Regions from separate parts of the Homo sapiens genome. Here region 2 is linked to region 1. Evidence: fine-mapped expression QTL. Tissue or cell type: whole blood. Region 1 holds a variant in brackets; the other region holds the start of a gene. All regions are shown on one strand. Distances are between the middles of the regions.

Region 1 (8,104 bases):
AGGGCACCCCTCATGTTTTGTCACCTCCTGTCCCTTTTTTCTCCCTTCAGCCATGGGGTCTCCACTAAATATCTCAACTTCACGGCCTCAGAGAATACCAGTCGGGTCATGCAGCATCAATATCAGGTGGGCAGCTGGGACGTCTGGGTCCTGAGAAGGAGGCTGGGGAGGAAAATCGATGGTAGAAAATGCAGAAACAGGGATGGGAAATGTGCGCAAGGCACCTGTGGTGTGCCAGGCTTGGTTCCACGCTGCTATCACTCAGTATGCACACATACACGCACGTATGTATGTGACATGCACGCACGTAGTTATCTTGTATTACCTTCGTAGCGACTCTGTGGGGCACTGTCATGATCCCCAGTTTACAGATGAAGAAACTGAGGCTCAGAGAGGTTTACAGAACAAGCTCGAGGTCTCCCACCGAGTAAGTGGGAGAGCTAGGACTGGAGACCAGGCCGTGTGGCACTGGAATGCGTATTACATGTACACTCTACTCTCTCAAACAGGAAGGGGCAGGACGCCCGGGCCTATGGCCTGCCCCGTGGGGAGGGGAGGCTGATTCTCCAGGCTGGTGGGGGAGGAAGGCCAGAGCCCTGACCCCGCCCTCCCCGGTGCAGGTCAGCAACCTGGGGCAGAGGAGCCTCCCCATCAGCCTGGTGTTCTTGGTGCCCGTCCGGCTGAACCAGACTGTCATATGGGACCGCCCCCAGGTCACCTTCTCCGAGGTGAGCGGAGCTCGGCCTGACTCCTGCACGGCCCTGCGCGTTCCTCTCACCTCTGTTAATGCTATTGGGTTTTAGAGCCGCTCCGCCCCTCTCCTGGACCCAGGCCATCTCACCTCCCGAGATGAGGCCCTGGCGCCTTCATCTCTGCCCCTTCTCAGTGCGTCTCTTTCCTCAGAACCTCTCGAGTACGTGCCACACCAAGGAGCGCTTGCCCTCTCACTCCGACTTTCTGGCTGAGCTTCGGAAGGCCCCCGTGGTGGTGAGAAGCTAAGTCAGCCCCAGGGCCACACAGAGACCCAGAGCGCTTCCCTGCTGGAACCTGTATGGTCTCTGAGCAAACGGGGAGGGGTGTTCTCTGCCTTCGGCTTCCTTACCCGTCCCCTCCCCTCCTGCGTTCCCCAGAACTGCTCCATCGCTGTCTGCCAGAGAATCCAGTGTGACATCCCGTTCTTTGGCATCCAGGAAGAATTCAATGCTACCCTCAAAGGCAACCTCTCGTTTGACTGGTACATCAAGGTGTGTGGGGTCCTGAGGCTTCGCCGGGCACAGGCGTGGTGCTCAGGGCCCAGGTGCAGTGCCCACCCGCTCTCTTCCACAGACCTCGCATAACCACCTCCTGATCGTGAGCACAGCTGAGATCTTGTTTAACGATTCCGTGTTCACCCTGCTGCCGGGACAGGGGGCGTTTGTGAGGTCCCAGGTACCTGTCTTGGGCGCTGAGGAACTATTGGAGGGAGAGGGGCTGCGCTTGTGGAGATTTCTGGGGGAGGAGAGAGAGACACAAAGAGAGAGGGAGAGAGAGAGACAGAGCGACAGAGAGACAGAGAGATACAGAGACGTAAGGAGAGAGACAGACAGAGACAGAGAGATAGAGGCAGAGGGAGAAACAGACACAGAGACAGACAAAGGAGAGAGAGATAGAGAGTCAGAGAGATAGAGATAGAGACAGAGACAGTGAGAGATGGAGATAGACAGAGAGATAGAGATAAAGAGAGAGATACAGAGCGCGACAGAGACAGAGACAGTGAGCCATGGAGATAGAGAGACAGAGAGAGGCAGAAAGCGATAGAGAGAGATAGAGGACAGAGAAACGGAGGAGGGAGAGGAGGGAGAAGAGGTGGGGGAGGAGGACTGAGGGCTGGGGTTCTGGGGGACATGAGGAGGGGTTCCCCACTTGATTCAGGGGTGCACACGGTGTGAATGGGGAACCCCCAGAAATCCAGAGTCGTCTCCCCTGACGCCCCTCCTTCCTCCCCCAGACGGAGACCAAAGTGGAGCCGTTCGAGGTCCCCAACCCCCTGCCGCTCATCGTGGGCAGCTCTGTCGGGGGACTGCTGCTCCTGGCCCTCATCACCGCCGCGCTGTACAAGGTGCTCCCCGCTGCTCCCCCACCCCCTCCCTTCATCCTCTCGGGCCTCGCGCTGCAGCTCCGTGCCTCGGTTTCCCCGGCGGGGCTGCCAGCTGTGTGACTGGGGCGAGTCTGGGAGCCTCTCTGCGCCTCAGTCTCTTAGGGAGGGTGGCCGGGTTCATGCGCGGGGCGCGCTGAGAACGAGTCGCCCTCCTTGTAGTTTCTGTTTTTCTCCAGGCCCCGACGCGGATGTCACTCCCCTCCCGCCCCGCCCTCCTGGGTCCCTTCTGTCTCTGCCGGCCCTCCCGCCCCCTCCCCCTGGTCTGCGGAGCCGCACGCTCCCTGGCTGCTGTCGCTCTCACTGCCCTCCTCTGCCCCGCAGCTCGGCTTCTTCAAGCGGCAATACAAGGACATGATGAGTGAAGGGGGTCCCCCGGGGGCCGAACCCCAGTAGCGGCTCCTTCCCGACAGAGCTGCCTCTCGGTGGCCAGCAGGACTCTGCCCAGACCACACGTAGCCCCCAGGCTGCTGGACACGTCGGACAGCGAAGTATCCCCGACAGGACGGGCTTGGGCTTCCATTTGTGTGTGTGCAAGTGTGTATGTGCGTGTGTGCAAGTGTCTGTGTGCAAGTGTGTGCACATGTGTGCGTGTGCGTGCATGTGCACTTGCACGCCCATGTGTGAGTGTGTGCAAGTATGTGAGTGTGTCCAAGTGTGTGTGCGTGTGTCCATGTGTGTGCAAGTGTGTGCATGTGTGCGAGTGTGTGCATGTGTGTGCTCAGGGGCGTGTGGCTCACGTGTGTGACTCAGATGTCTCTGGCGTGTGGGTAGGTGACGGCAGCGTAGCCTCTCCGGCAGAAGGGAACTGCCTGGGCTCCCTTGTGCGTGGGTGAAGCCGCTGCTGGGTTTTCCTCCGGGAGAGGGGACGGTCAATCCTGTGGGTGAAGACAGAGGGAAACACAGCAGCTTCTCTCCACTGAAAGAAGTGGGACTTCCCGTCGCCTGCGAGCCTGCGGCCTGCTGGAGCCTGCGCAGCTTGGATGGAGACTCCATGAGAAGCCGTGGGTGGAACCAGGAACCTCCTCCACACCAGC[G/C]CTGATGCCCAATAAAGATGCCCACTGAGGAATGATGAAGCTTCCTTTCTGGATTCATTTATTATTTCAATGTGACTTTAATTTTTTGGATGGATAAGCTTGTCTATGGTACAAAAATCACAAGGCATTCAAGTGTACAGTGAAAAGTCTCCCTTTCCAGATATTCAAGTCACCTCCTTAAAGGTAGTCAAGATTGTGTTTTGAGGTTTCCTTCAGACAGATTCCAGGCGATGTGCAAGTGTATGCACGTGTGCACACACACCACACATACACACACACAAGCTTTTTTACACAAATGGTAGCATACTTTATATTGGTCTGTATCTTGCTTTTTTTCACCAATATTTCTCAGACATCGGTTCATATTAAGACATAAATTACTTTTTCATTCTTTTATACCGCTGCATAGTATTCCATTGTGTGAGTGTACCATAATGTATTTAACCAGTCTTCTTTTGATATACTATTTTCATTCTCTTGTTATTGCATCAATGCTGAGTTAATAAATCAAATATATGTCATTTTTGCATATATGTAAGGATAATTTATAGGATATGTTCCTGGAAGTTTGGGTTCTCCCAGAAGCAAACCCAAGAATTTGGGTGAAACAAGCGTATTTAAGAGGTGGCAGGCCAGGCATGGTGGCTCACACCTGAAATCCCAGCATTTTGGGAGGTGAAGGTGTGAAGATTGCTTGAGCTCAGGAGTTCGAGACTAGCCTGGGCAACATAGTGAGAACCTGTGTCCACGAAAAATTAAAAAAATTTAGCCAGGCCTGGTGTTACATGCCTGTAGTCACAGCTACTCCGGAGGCTGATGCAGGAGGATTACTTGAGCCCAGAAGGTCTAGACTGCAGTGAGCCATGATCGCACCACTGCACTCCAGCCTGGGTGACAGAGTGAGATCCTGTCTCAAAAATAAACAAAATAATAAAATAAAGGTCGGGCACAGTGGCTCACGCCTCTGTAATCCCAGAACTTTGGGAGGCCGAGGCTGGTGGATCACCTGATCTCAGGAGTTTGAGACCAGCCTGTCGAACTTGGTGAAACCCCGTCTCTACTAAAAATACAAAAAAATTAGCCATGCATGGTGGCAGGCAACTGTAATCTCAGCTACTTGGGAGGCTGAGGAAGGAGAATTGCTTTAACCTGGGAGGTAGAGGTTGCAGTGAGATATGATTGCATCACTGCACTCCAGCCTGGGCGACAGAGCAGGACTCCATCTTAAAAAAAAAAAAATAAATAAAATAAAATAAAATAAAGAGATGGCTCCAGGAAATACCGAGGAAGGGAAGGCTGCCAATAACAGGTGTATCACCCACAGAGAAGCTGCTGTGAGTTCCTGGAGCTTCACCCCACTGGGCAGTTCTCGGAGGCAGTGCAGAACACGCACCTCAGTATCACCCCACCCAGGGGAGAAGGCTGGAGCGCATAGACACCGATTCCACTTAGCTATTGGATGAGGGCTGCTCTTGGTGGGGAGAGTGTGTTAATTTCCTACCACTTCTGGCCTGCCCTGAGTGTGAGGAGAGTGGGCTCTAGTGGCCAGAGAAAGTGATACCAGTGCTGCTGGCTGGATGTTTGACAGGTGAACACAGCCCCTGACACGGTGCCTTTGGTTCAGGTCAGGGCACCAGGAGCACTTGCTGCCAAGGTGTGTGCAGGTGACATTTTGGTGGCTGCTTCCTCAGAGGGAGGATGCCCAGTGCCTGTCCCTCATACTTTGCAAACACAGTAAACACTAGCCTGGCCTGAACATACATCCTCTCTAATCCTCACACCAGTCCTTGGTATTTACATGAATTTCACTTATGAGGAAACCTAGGCTTAGATAGATCATACCAGTTGCCTGAGGTCATACAGCTGGGAAGGAATGGAGCTAGGAGTTAATCCCAGCTCTGCCTAGGTCTAAAGCTTTTCTCTTTTACTGTCCTGACAGCCTCAGAGGAATGGCCCCAGAACAGGCATGAGGGAGTGTGGGGAGAGGGTGGCTGTTATTTAACTGTTATGATATTGGGTTAAAGCATATGAAATTGATGACATGTTTTTGGACAAAAATGTTTCTTTCTTTTCTTTCTTTCTTTCTCTTTCTCTCTTTTCTTTCTCTCTCTCTTTCTTTCTCCTTCTTTCTTTCTTTCTCCTTCTTTCTTTCTTTCCCTTCCTTCCTTCCTTCCTTTCCTTCCTTCCTTCCTTCCTTCCTTCCTTCCTCCTTCCTTCCTTCCTTCCTTCCTCCTTCCTTCCTTCCTTCCTTCCTTTCTTTTTTCTTTCTTTCTTTCCTTCCTTCCTTCCTTCCTTCCTTCCTTCCTTCCTTCCTTCCTTCCTTCTTTCTTTCTTTCTTTCTTTCTTTCTTTCTTTCTTTCTTTCTTTCTTTCTTTCTTTCTTTCTTTCTTTCTTTCTTTCTTTTTTTTCATGGAGTCTTGTTCTGTCGCCCAGACTGGAGTACAGTAGTGTGATCTCAGCTCACTACAACCTCTCCCTCCCGGGTTCAAGTGATTATCTTGCCTCAGCCTCCTGAGTAGCTGGGATTACAGGCGTGCACCACAATGTCTGGCTAATTTTTTTTTTTTGTATTTTTGGTAGAGATGGGGTTCCACCATGTTGGCCAGGCTGGTCTTGAACTCCTGACCTCAGGTGATCCATCTGCCTTGGCCTCCCGAAATGCTGGGATTACAGGTGTGAGTCACTGTGCCCAGCCAAAAAATGGTAATTTCATGATCTTCATTGAAATACAAGAAAATCATGGCTTAGAGGGACACTTGTTTCACATGTGGCAGGAGGAGAGAGGGCTTACTCCTTAGGGAGGTGAAGGAAGGGTCCCCAAGGGAGGTGACACCTGACTGAAGCAGGGCCAGAAGATCTCCAGGCAGAAGGGAGGGCAGGGGAGGCTGGGAGAGTGGGCAGGGCTTGGGCATGAGTGCTTTGTAAGCCAGAGTGAGTAGTTCCAATTTCACTCAAAGTGAAGTGAGATGCCCTCAAAAGGTGGCTAATGAGACAATGGCCCTTTGTATCTGTGGGGGTGACACAAAACACGGTCACCTTTAGACGGTTCTTTGCTATTTCCTCTCCTGACTTAAATAAAGTCTGTTAAGAATTTCTGTGTTTCCTTATGTTGAAAGATAAAAGTCCTCAATATCTGCAGAAGTCCTGAATTGCTCCGGGAACAGAGAGAGTTCTGTACCTTTAGTCGCCTGTCCTTTCACCCTCCATGTCTGTAGTCGCCTGTCCTTGCAGCCTCCATGCTGGTCCTTGTAGCCTTCGTACCTAGTTGCTTGTCCTGGCAGCCTCCATACCTGTAGTTGCCTGTCCTTGCAGCCTCCGTGCCTGTAGCCGCCAGTCTTTGCAGGGCAGTTAAAGTCCTGTGAACTCAGAGTTCACCTCCGCGTCTTCAAATGAGAAGCTTGTGTTGAATTCAGCCAGATAGGAGCTTTATGATGGGTTAGAAAAGTCAATCATTTCAAGCGACAGATTTCCCTAGCATGACCACAAAGTGACTAATAAACAGGACCATAAATCTGGTGATAAGTGGCCAAGTCCAGGAACGTCTGCTTGCTTTTATTTTTGGGGATTTCTCACTTCAGAATAAATGAATCCCTTCAGTATCCACTCTCCTTTTCCTACTTAGAGTAGAATCTTAATTTGGGCCACCATGGGAGATGGTTACAATTCTGACTCCCAGTGAATGGTGCTTCCCGGCCCTACACCCTTGCAGTGTGACATTGCTGTCCCTGACATCACATGGTGCGGCCTGTCTACCTCTTTGAATCTGGGCTGGTCCCGTGGTTTGCTTTGATTAATAGAATACAGTAGGAGTGTGGTCGTGTGAGTTCTGGAGCCTAGACCTTTAGGAGCACAGCAGATCCTGCCCTGCACCCCTCGGAACACTGAGGTCACCACGCCGTGATCCATATGGCCCACTGGAGAAAGAGTGGACTCATGGAGGAGACAGCGGAGGCCACTGCCACTGTGCATGCATGAGGCTGCTGTGATCCTTCCATCCAGCTGTCCAACACCTGCAGCCACTGGAGAGTCCCACAGAACTGCCTGGATTGTCACCTCATGCAACTGTGAGAAATAATCAATTACTGATGTCTCAGTCCTGCGTGGTGGTTTGTTACGCTGCAATGGATATTGCGTATAGCCCCTTAGTTATAGGGTTCGTCTCCCCACCTCCTGTGCAGCTGGTGTGGCTGCCTGGCGAGGTTCTGGCTGATGGGATGTGAGCAGCAGTGAAGCGAGCAACTTCGGAGCCAGGTCCTTTGAGGGAAGAAGTGTCGTTTCTTTTCACCACCTTCCCGCTGGCTGGAGTGTCAGCATCACGGTGCACAATTTTGGACCCTGAAGATGAGTTTGACATCGAAGAATGCAAGAGTGGAACAGAGGAGGCTGGGTCCCGCCTCTGCGGAGGCACCATGTCAGCCCTGGACTCCATATTCTCATGCCATTACAGGAGAGAGATGAGAACACTGGTCTTGTTGAAAACACTATCACTCAGAGCCTCCGATACAGCAGTTTATCTGTTTTGTTAATTGATATCACCACCTTCCCAAAGATTCTGTTCTCCCAATTGTGGTAAAGGCCGAAGTCGTCTTCTTCTTATTCTTCTTTTTCTTTTTTCAGACAGTGTCTCGCTCTGCTGCCAAAGCTGGAGTGCAGTGGCGTGATCACAGCTCACTGCAACCTTGAGCTCCTGGGCTCAAGTGATCTCCCACATCAGCCTCCCGAGTAGGTGGAACTACAGGCATGTGCCACCATGCCTGGCTGATTGTTTTATGATTTTTTTTTGTAGAGACGGGGTCTTGCTATGTTGCCCAAGCTGGTCTTGAATTCCTGGCCTCAGGTGATCCTTCCTTCTTGGCCTCTCAAAGCACTGGGATGTCAGGTGTGAGCTGCCACTCCCGGCCTCTGAAGGCCTCTTGATGGTGCAGCTACCCCA
Region 2 (8,104 bases), 74 kb before region 1:
TTCTTCCTTCTTTTTTTTTTTGAGACAAGGTCTCACTCTGTTGCCCAGGCTGGAGTGCAGTAGTGTGATCATGGCTCACTGCAGCCTCCAACACTTGGGCTCAAAATGTCCAAGGGACATTTTGCGAAGTGCGTTTTCAGGGAGATAGTTTGATTTCCCACACCTGTTTGATACATATTAATGTTTAATTAATTAATTATTTATTTAATTAAAAAAATTTAAGAGACGGGGTCTTATTATGTTGCCCAGGCTAGAGTACAGTGTATGGTGGCATGATCATAGCTCACTGCAACCTCGACCCCTTGGGTGCAAGTGATCCTCCTGCCTCAGCTTCCTGAGTAGCTGGGACTACATGTGCATACCACCACACTAGATAATTAAAAAAAAATTTTTTTTAAGAGACAGAATCTTCCTATGTTGCCCAGGTTGGTCTTGAACTCCTGGGCTCAAGCGATCCTCCCACTCTGGACTCCCAAAGTGCTGGTATTACAGGCAGTGAGCCATTGTGCCTGGCATTAGCTCCTTCTTTTCCTCACTTTCCCACCAGTGTTTCCGGAATCACCTTCCAGATAAATTACTTACACTTGAAGCCTTGTCTCAGAGTCCACTTATAGGGGAAATCAAGCTAAGATTTTATCAAGAGTGGGGATGGGGGACAGGTAGGAGGGAACAGCCAACAGCTTATAGATATGTCCCCACCCACGGTCACCAGGTCAGGTGCACACTTGGTGGTGGCTCATTGAGAAAGCCTCTGCAGGTTGGACAGCCAGTCTGAGATCTTGCCTATGTTTTTACAGAGAGTGGACCCTTGGCCACTGTTCAGGGCAAGGAGGGGCCTCCACGTCTGAGTTCGAGCAGCCCCCATAGTGGCCAGAGTGTGAAAACTTTTCCCAAAGCAAACCCAGCTGATCTACTAAACTCCTCCCCGGGCACCCTGGTTGGTATCTTCTCATCTTGGGCTCATGACTTCGTTCGTCCTTTCCTCAGCTTCTTTACCTGCTAACAAATACAGGTAACCTGTTGTTTTAAATTATCTATTGGTATTTTTTATGATTATGAGTCTTTTTTTTGTATAAAGGTCTTTTTTTTTTTTCTCTTTGAGACATGGTCTTGCTCTGTTGCCCAGGCTGGAGTGCAGTGTTGAGGTCATAGCTCACTGTAGCCTCAAACTCCTGGGCTCAAGTGATCCTCTTGCCTTGGCCTCCCACAGCATTGGGATCACAGGCATGAGCCACTGCACCCAGCCTATATAAATATTTTAAGTACAAATGATATAGAAAAGAATATTAAAGTCATCTTGTAGCAGATTGAATACAACCACAAATTCCTCCCATTGGGAGGTGGGATCTGTGTCCCCTTTGCTTGAATGTGGATGAGCTCTGTGACTGCCTGATCAATGGAATGTGGTGCAGATGACTTGGCGCCAGTTTCCAGATCAAGACCTTAGTAGCCTGGAAATTTCTGCTTCCTGTCTGTTGGAACACTTGCTCTTGAAGTCCAGCCACCATGCTGCGAGAAGCCCAAGCCACATGGAGAGGGCACGTGGGGGTGCCCAGGTGACAGCCCCAACTGAGCTCCTAGCCCACGGCCAACTGCCAGCTGTGGGAGTGACCCATTTTGGGAGCCCAGCCCAACTGAGCTTTGGATTACTCTAGCCCTGGTTGTGATCCGACTGCAATCATGTGAGAGACCCCGCTGAGAACTGCTGAGGCCAGGAGATTCACAGATACGCGAGAGATTATAATATGCTGCTGTTTTTAACTATGAAGTTTTGGAGTAGCTCGCTCTGCAGCAATAGATACTGGAACATACCTGTAATCCTCCTATCTTGGAGATAACGACTATTAACATTTGGTTTTCCTGCATATATATATATATATATATATATATATATATATATATATATATATGATTTATTTTTGTATGTATGTACTTATTTATTTAATTTTAATTTTTTATTTTTTGAAACTGAGTCAAGCTCTATTGCCCAGGCTGGAGTGCAATGGTGCAATCTCAGCTCACTGCAACCTCCACCTCCCAGGTTCAAGTGATTCTCCTGCCTCAGCCTCCCAAGTAACTAGGATTACAGGTGCCTGCCACCACGCCTGGCTAATTGTTGTATTTTTAGTAGAGATGGGGTTTCACCATGTTGGCCAGGCTGGTCTTGAACTCCTAATCTCAGGTGATCCTCCCACCTCAGCCTCCCGAAGTGCTGGGATTACAGGCGTGCCTGTATATATTACATGCCCTGCCTATATATATTTTAGAGACAGGGTCTGGCTCTGTTTTCCAGGCTGGAGTGCAGTGGTGCAATCATATCTCACTGCAGCCTCAACCTCCTTGGCTCAAGCGATCCTCCCACCTCAGCCTGTTGAGTAGCTGGGACCACAGGTGTGCATCACTATGCCCAGCTAATTTTTAAACATTTTTTTGTAGAGTCAGGGTCTTGCTGTGTTGCCCAGGCTGGTCTTGAGTTCCTGAGCTCAAATGATCCCTCTGCCTTGGCCTCCCAATGTGCTGAGATTACAAGCAGGAGTCACCACACCTGGCTATATATAAAAATTATAAACAGATAATTTTTAACCAAATGTACATAATTTTAATTGCTTTTTTTTTTTTCAGCCAGCAAGCATTTTTTTCCATCTAGTTATCGGGAAAGTAGAACTAGAGGCAAAAGAAAATGTGTTGAATGGTGAAACCCTGTCTCTACTGAAAATACAAAAAATTAGCCAGGCGTGGTGGCAAGCACCTGTATTCTCAGCTACTCGGGAGGCTGAGGCAGGAGAATCACTTGAACTCGGGAGGCAGAGGTTGCAGTGAGCTGAGATCACGCCACTGCACTCCAGCCTGGGCGACAGAGGGAGACTCCGTTTCACAAAAAAAAAAAAAAAAAAAAAAAGAAAATGTGTTGAGAAAGAGTGAAAAAAATCATTGGCTTGAGAATCACATTGGCGGTCACATAAAGGTGAGGTTTGTGTTCCATGTATGTGTGGAAGGATACCTATTTTCCTGTGCCTTTGAAAACAGAATTAAAAGTGACAGACACAGGGGAGGGTAAGGATATATCACAGAGTGAAGTATCATTGAACCATTCCTCTGTTGAATATTCAGGTTTTTTTAGCTTTTCATATTAACAATAATGCTGCAATGAACAAGCTTGCAAATATATATATATATATATATTTTTTTTTTTTTAGAGATAAGAGTCTTGCTCTGTCGCCTAGGCTGGAGTGCAGTGGCACAATCTCTGCTCACTGCAACCTCCGCCTCCAGGGTTCAAGTGATTCTGCTGCCTCAGCCTCCCAGGTGGGATTACAGGTGCCTGCCACCACGCCTGGCTAATTTTTTTGTCTTTTTAGTAAAGATGAGGTTTCACCATGTTGGGCAGGCTGGTTTCAATTGCTGACCTCAAGTGAGCCACCCCGCCTCAGCCTCCCAAAATGCTAGGATTACAGGCATGAGCCACCGCACCCAGCCAAGTTTGTACATATATTTTTGACTACACTTCTTAACTATTCTTAGGATAAATTACTAGAAGTGAAAATTCTTGGGTGAAGAGCTTGAGGCCTTTACACACACACACACACACACACACAAAAATAGGCTGGATGCAGTGGCTCACACCTGTAATCTCAGCAGTTTGGGAGGCTGAGGAAGGAGGATCACTTGAGTCCAGGAGGTTGAGAATAGCCTGAACAACATAGCAAGATCTTGTCTCTACAAAAAATTTAAAAAAAATTAGCTGGCCATGGCAGCATGTGCCTGTAGTACCAGCTACTCGGAAGGCTGAGGTAGGAGGATCGCTTGAGCCCAGGAGGTTGATTGAAGCTGCAGTGAGCTGTGATTACACCACTGCACTCCAGCCTGGGCAACAGAGCTAGACTCTGTCTCTAAAAAAAGCACAAAATAATATTTAAAAAGCACCAGGTATGCCTGTACTTGAGTTGTCTTTGTTGATGGCTACAAATGAGGACAGCTCTGGCTGAAGGGCGCTTCCATTTCCATGGGCTGAAGGAGGGACATTTTGCAAAGTGTGTTTTCAGGAAGACACAGAGTTTTACCTCCTACACTTGTTTGATCTGTATTAATGTTTGCTTATTTATTTATTTAATTTTTTTTTTGAGACAGAGTCTCACTCTGTCACCTGGGCTGGAGTGCAGTGGCATTATTGAGGCTCATTGCAGTCTCAGACTCCTGAGCTCAAACAATCCTCCTGCCTCAGCCTCTGGAGTAGCTAGGACTACAGGCATGTGCCACCATGCCTGGCTAATTTTTTAAATGTATTTTTTTGTAGAGTCGGGGTCTCCCTATGTTGCCCAGGCTGGAGTGCAGTGGTGTGATCCTAGCTCACTGCAGCCTGGACCTCGGGCTCAAGTAATTCTCACACCTCAGCCTGTCCAGTAGCAGGGGCTACAGGCGCGCACCACCATGCCCAGCTAATTAAAAATATTTTTTTGTAGAGACAGGGTCTCTCTATGTTGCCCAGGCTGGTTTCAAACTCCCAGGCTCAAGCAATCCTCCTGCCTTGGCCTCCCAAAGTGCTGGCATTACAGGCGTGAGCCACTGCGCCTGGCCCGTATTAATGTTTAGAACACGAATTCCAGGAGGCAGGCTAAGTCTGTTCAGCTTGTTCATATGCTTGGGCCAACCCAAGAAACAAGTGGGTGACAAATGGCACCTTTTGGATAGTGGTATTGACTTTGAAAGTTTGGGTCAGGAAGCTGGGGAGGAAGGGTGGGCAGGCTGTGGGCAGTCCTGGGCGGAAGACCAGGCAGGGCTATGTGCTCACTGAGCCTCCGCCCTCTTCCTTTGAATCTCTGATAGACTTCTGCCTCCTACTTCTCCTTTTCTGCCCTTCTTTGCTTTGGTGGCTTCCTTGTGGTTCCTCAGTGGTGCCTGCAACCCCTGGTTCACCTCCTTCCAGGTTCTGGCTCCTTCCAGCCATGGCTCTCAGAGTCCTTCTGTTAACAGGTGCATGGGGGTGGGGTGGGGGACTCTGGGTGGGGAGGAGGGTAACTTTTGGGTCTGTCATAAATAGAGGGCCCAGAATATGTAGGAGTCAGTCTGGGGAGAGGCAAAGGGGATTTGGGGAAGGAGAAAGGGTTCAAGAAGAAGCAGGGAGAACAGCTAGACCCAGACAGGCTGGCCAGGGAAGCCTGGATGAATGACCACATTCATGGACTGTGCAAGGCTGCTTGCCGGTCCCCTTGCTTCACACATGAGGAGACGGAGGCCCAGGGAGGAGAAGTGACATGGCTCAGGGTGCGCAGCAGGTGTGAGACCCCTTTCCTGAGTGCTTCCTCCTGGATCCCCTCTCACCATCTCCACTTTGCCTCCGGTTCTATTTTCCAAGGTCCCGGGTGCAAATGTTTGTTGAATGACTGATGAATGAAAATGATTTGAGTTTGTTACCTTTTATGCTTATATGTTGTGGAAAATGAAATTCTCCTCAAAAGGGAAGGAAATACTTGAGAGCTGCATAGGAAGGAAATTATCTAATTAAGAATGTATAGAAACTTCACTGTTGGGCAAATCATCGTTGTGACACCGGGGGAAGAAGCCATTTAGGTGCTCAGAAGGGAGGCTGGAATTCAGAGCAGGACTGGACGTGCCCCACGACGGTGGTTCTTAGGTCAGGAGTCAGCAAACAGTGGCCTGGGGGCCCGATATGGCCCACGACCTGTTTTTGCACAACCTGCCAGCTAGAGATTGAAGATGAACACTGATAATCGATTTGATGATAGGGAGCACCACCCCCAAAGAATTCTATTTGTCTCATTTGTAAACCCGTATTACAAACAAATTGTACTCAATCATTATGTTTGAAATTTCCCTAATGACAAATTTGTGGAAAAGTATTTTCTGTCTTGTTATATAAGTACTTGTACAACATATTCTATCAGCCTCTTGGTCTGCAAAACCTAAAATTTACTATCTGGCTGTTTACAGAATAAGTGTGCTAATCCCCGCCCCAGGCTAACAGAGCTGGACCTGGGAGGCAGACATCTGGATGCTGGGTTAGTTAGGGTGACCGAATGGATGGGAAAGGGAATGGAGCAGGAAGACATGCTGCTATCTTTTTTTTTTTTTTTTTTTTTTGATACAGGGTCTTTCTCTGTTGCCCAGGCTGTAGTGCAGTGGCATGATCATGGTTCACTGCAGCCTTGACCTCCTGGGTTCAAGCAATCCTCCCACCTCAGCCTCCTGAGTACCACTACACCCGGCTAATTTTTTATTTTTTGTAGAGATGGGGTCTCACTGTGTTGCCTAGGCTGGTCTTAAACTCCTGAGCCCAGGTGATCCTCCCACGTCAGCCTCTTAAATTATTGGGATAACAGGCCTGAGCCACCACACCCAGCCATTGCTTTCTTTTAAATTATTATTAGTTTTTGTTTTTTTTTTGTATTTAATTTTGAGATAGGATCTCTCTCTGTTGCTCAGGCTGGAGTGCAGTGGCACAATCAGGGCTCAAGTGATCCTCCTGCCTCAGCCCTCCAAAGTGCTAGGACTACAGCCCCTAACTGGCATGCTACTTTCCTCTGCTTGATCCTTCCCCCATTCTCCCTTTAGCCTTGACCTTATGTCATGGGTTCAACTTGGACACTGAAAACGCAATGACCTTCCAAGAGAACGCAAGGGGCTTCGGGCAGAGCGTGGTCCAGCTTCAGGGATCCAGGTGAGACCCTTAGATGGAGCCCCCTTTCTCAGTGCTTTCTCTCCAAGACTTACATACCTGAAAAAAATCAGCGATTTGAGTGATCTTTTTCAACAGATAAATCAATTCAAAATATACAACAAATTCATCTTTTGAATTTACAGTATTCTAAATTCAAAAGATGCAAAAGGGTGTAAGAGTAAAAATCTCTTCCTTACTCCCTTCCCCTAGTTCCCTTCCCAGGAGGGACCTCACAAATGGTTTCCTGGGTGTTCCTTCGGGGAGACTCTGTGTGTGCATAACACATACACGTTCCCTCCCTCAGCCAACACACCATGTGTAGTATACATTGTACTGAAATTAAGGCCTGCCTGCAGGCTGCCGCCTATTTTTGTGAATGAATTTTATTGAAAACAACTCCGTCCACTTGTCTCTTACTGTTTATTGCCCTTCCCTCCCTTCCTCCCTTCCTTCCTTCCTTCCTTCTTTCCTTCCTTCCTTCCTCCCTCTCTCATTCCCTGCTTCCCTCTTTCCCTCCTTCCCTCCCTTCCCTCCCTTCCATCCTTCCTTCCTTCCTTCCTTCCTTCCTTCCTTCCTTCCTTCCTTCCTTCCTTCCTTCCTTCCTTCATTTCTTTCTTTCCTTTCTGACATGGTCTTGTTCTGTCATTCAGCCTGGAGTGCACAGGTGAAATCATAGCTCACTGTAGACTCAAACTCCTGGGCTCAAGCAATCCTCCCACCTTAGCCTCCTGAGTAGCTGGGACTACAGGCATGTGCCACCACACCTGGCTAATTTTTTGATTTTTTTTGTATAGACGAGGTCTCACTCTGTTGCCCAATCTGGTCTCAAACTCCTGGCCTCAAGTCATCCTCTTGCTTGGGCCTCCCAACTTGCTGGGATGATAGGTGTAAACCACTGTGCCTGGCTATGGCCACTTTTGAGCTGTAATGGCAGAATTCAGGAGCTGTGATAGAGATTGTATGGACCCTGAAGCCTAAAACATTTACCTTTACAGAAACAGTAATTGTGGAGGTGATAGTACCTTTCCAGAAGAAGGGGGCTGGTCTCTGCTCTTTGCTTTATCTCCCATAATACAGCCCAGTGATTTGAGTCCATTAATCCCATGTTATGCTTGCATTGCATGCCATAATTGGGAGATGCTATAATTTATTTTATTTTATTTTTTTAGAGACTCCCTCTGTCGCCCAGGCTGGAGTGCAGTGGCATGATCTTGGCTCACTGCGACTTCTGCCTCCTGGGTTCAATCGATTCTCCTGCCTCAGCCTCCTGAGTAGCTTGGATTGCAGGTGCCTGCCACCACGCCTGGCTAATTTTTGTATTTTTGTAGAGACAGGGTTTCACCATGTTGGCCAGGTTGGTCTTGAACTCCTGAGCTCAGGTGATCCACCTGCCTCGGCCTCCCAAAGTGCTGGGATTACAGGCTTGAG

What was found. PIP is the estimated chance that this variant, and not a neighbour inherited with it, causes the effect.
Region 2: it holds the start of ITGAM, and the variant in region 1 is fine-mapped to the expression of ITGAM in whole blood (TOPMed, PIP above 0.99).

Annotation. Positions count from the first base shown.
Region 1 is chr16:31,329,178-31,337,281 of GRCh38, forward strand. It overlaps ITGAM (integrin subunit alpha M), which reads left to right. Exons shown (of 30, transcript NM_000632.4): 24 at 51-126; 25 at 621-728; 26 at 904-987; 27 at 1,131-1,244; 28 at 1,327-1,428; 29 at 1,988-2,098; 30 at 2,459-3,700. The coding sequence ends at 2,530. Among named protein-coding and RNA genes, the nearest start is that of ITGAX, 22 kb to the right of the region's middle. RefSeq lists a silencer at 2,301-2,380. The variant G/C (reference allele first, on the strand shown) is at 3,172.
Region 2 is chr16:31,255,122-31,263,225 of GRCh38, forward strand. ITGAM (integrin subunit alpha M) reads left to right here and starts at 4,854. Exons shown (of 30, transcript NM_000632.4): 1 at 4,854-4,971; 2 at 6,571-6,676. The coding sequence starts at 4,944. RefSeq lists an enhancer at 4,611-4,710.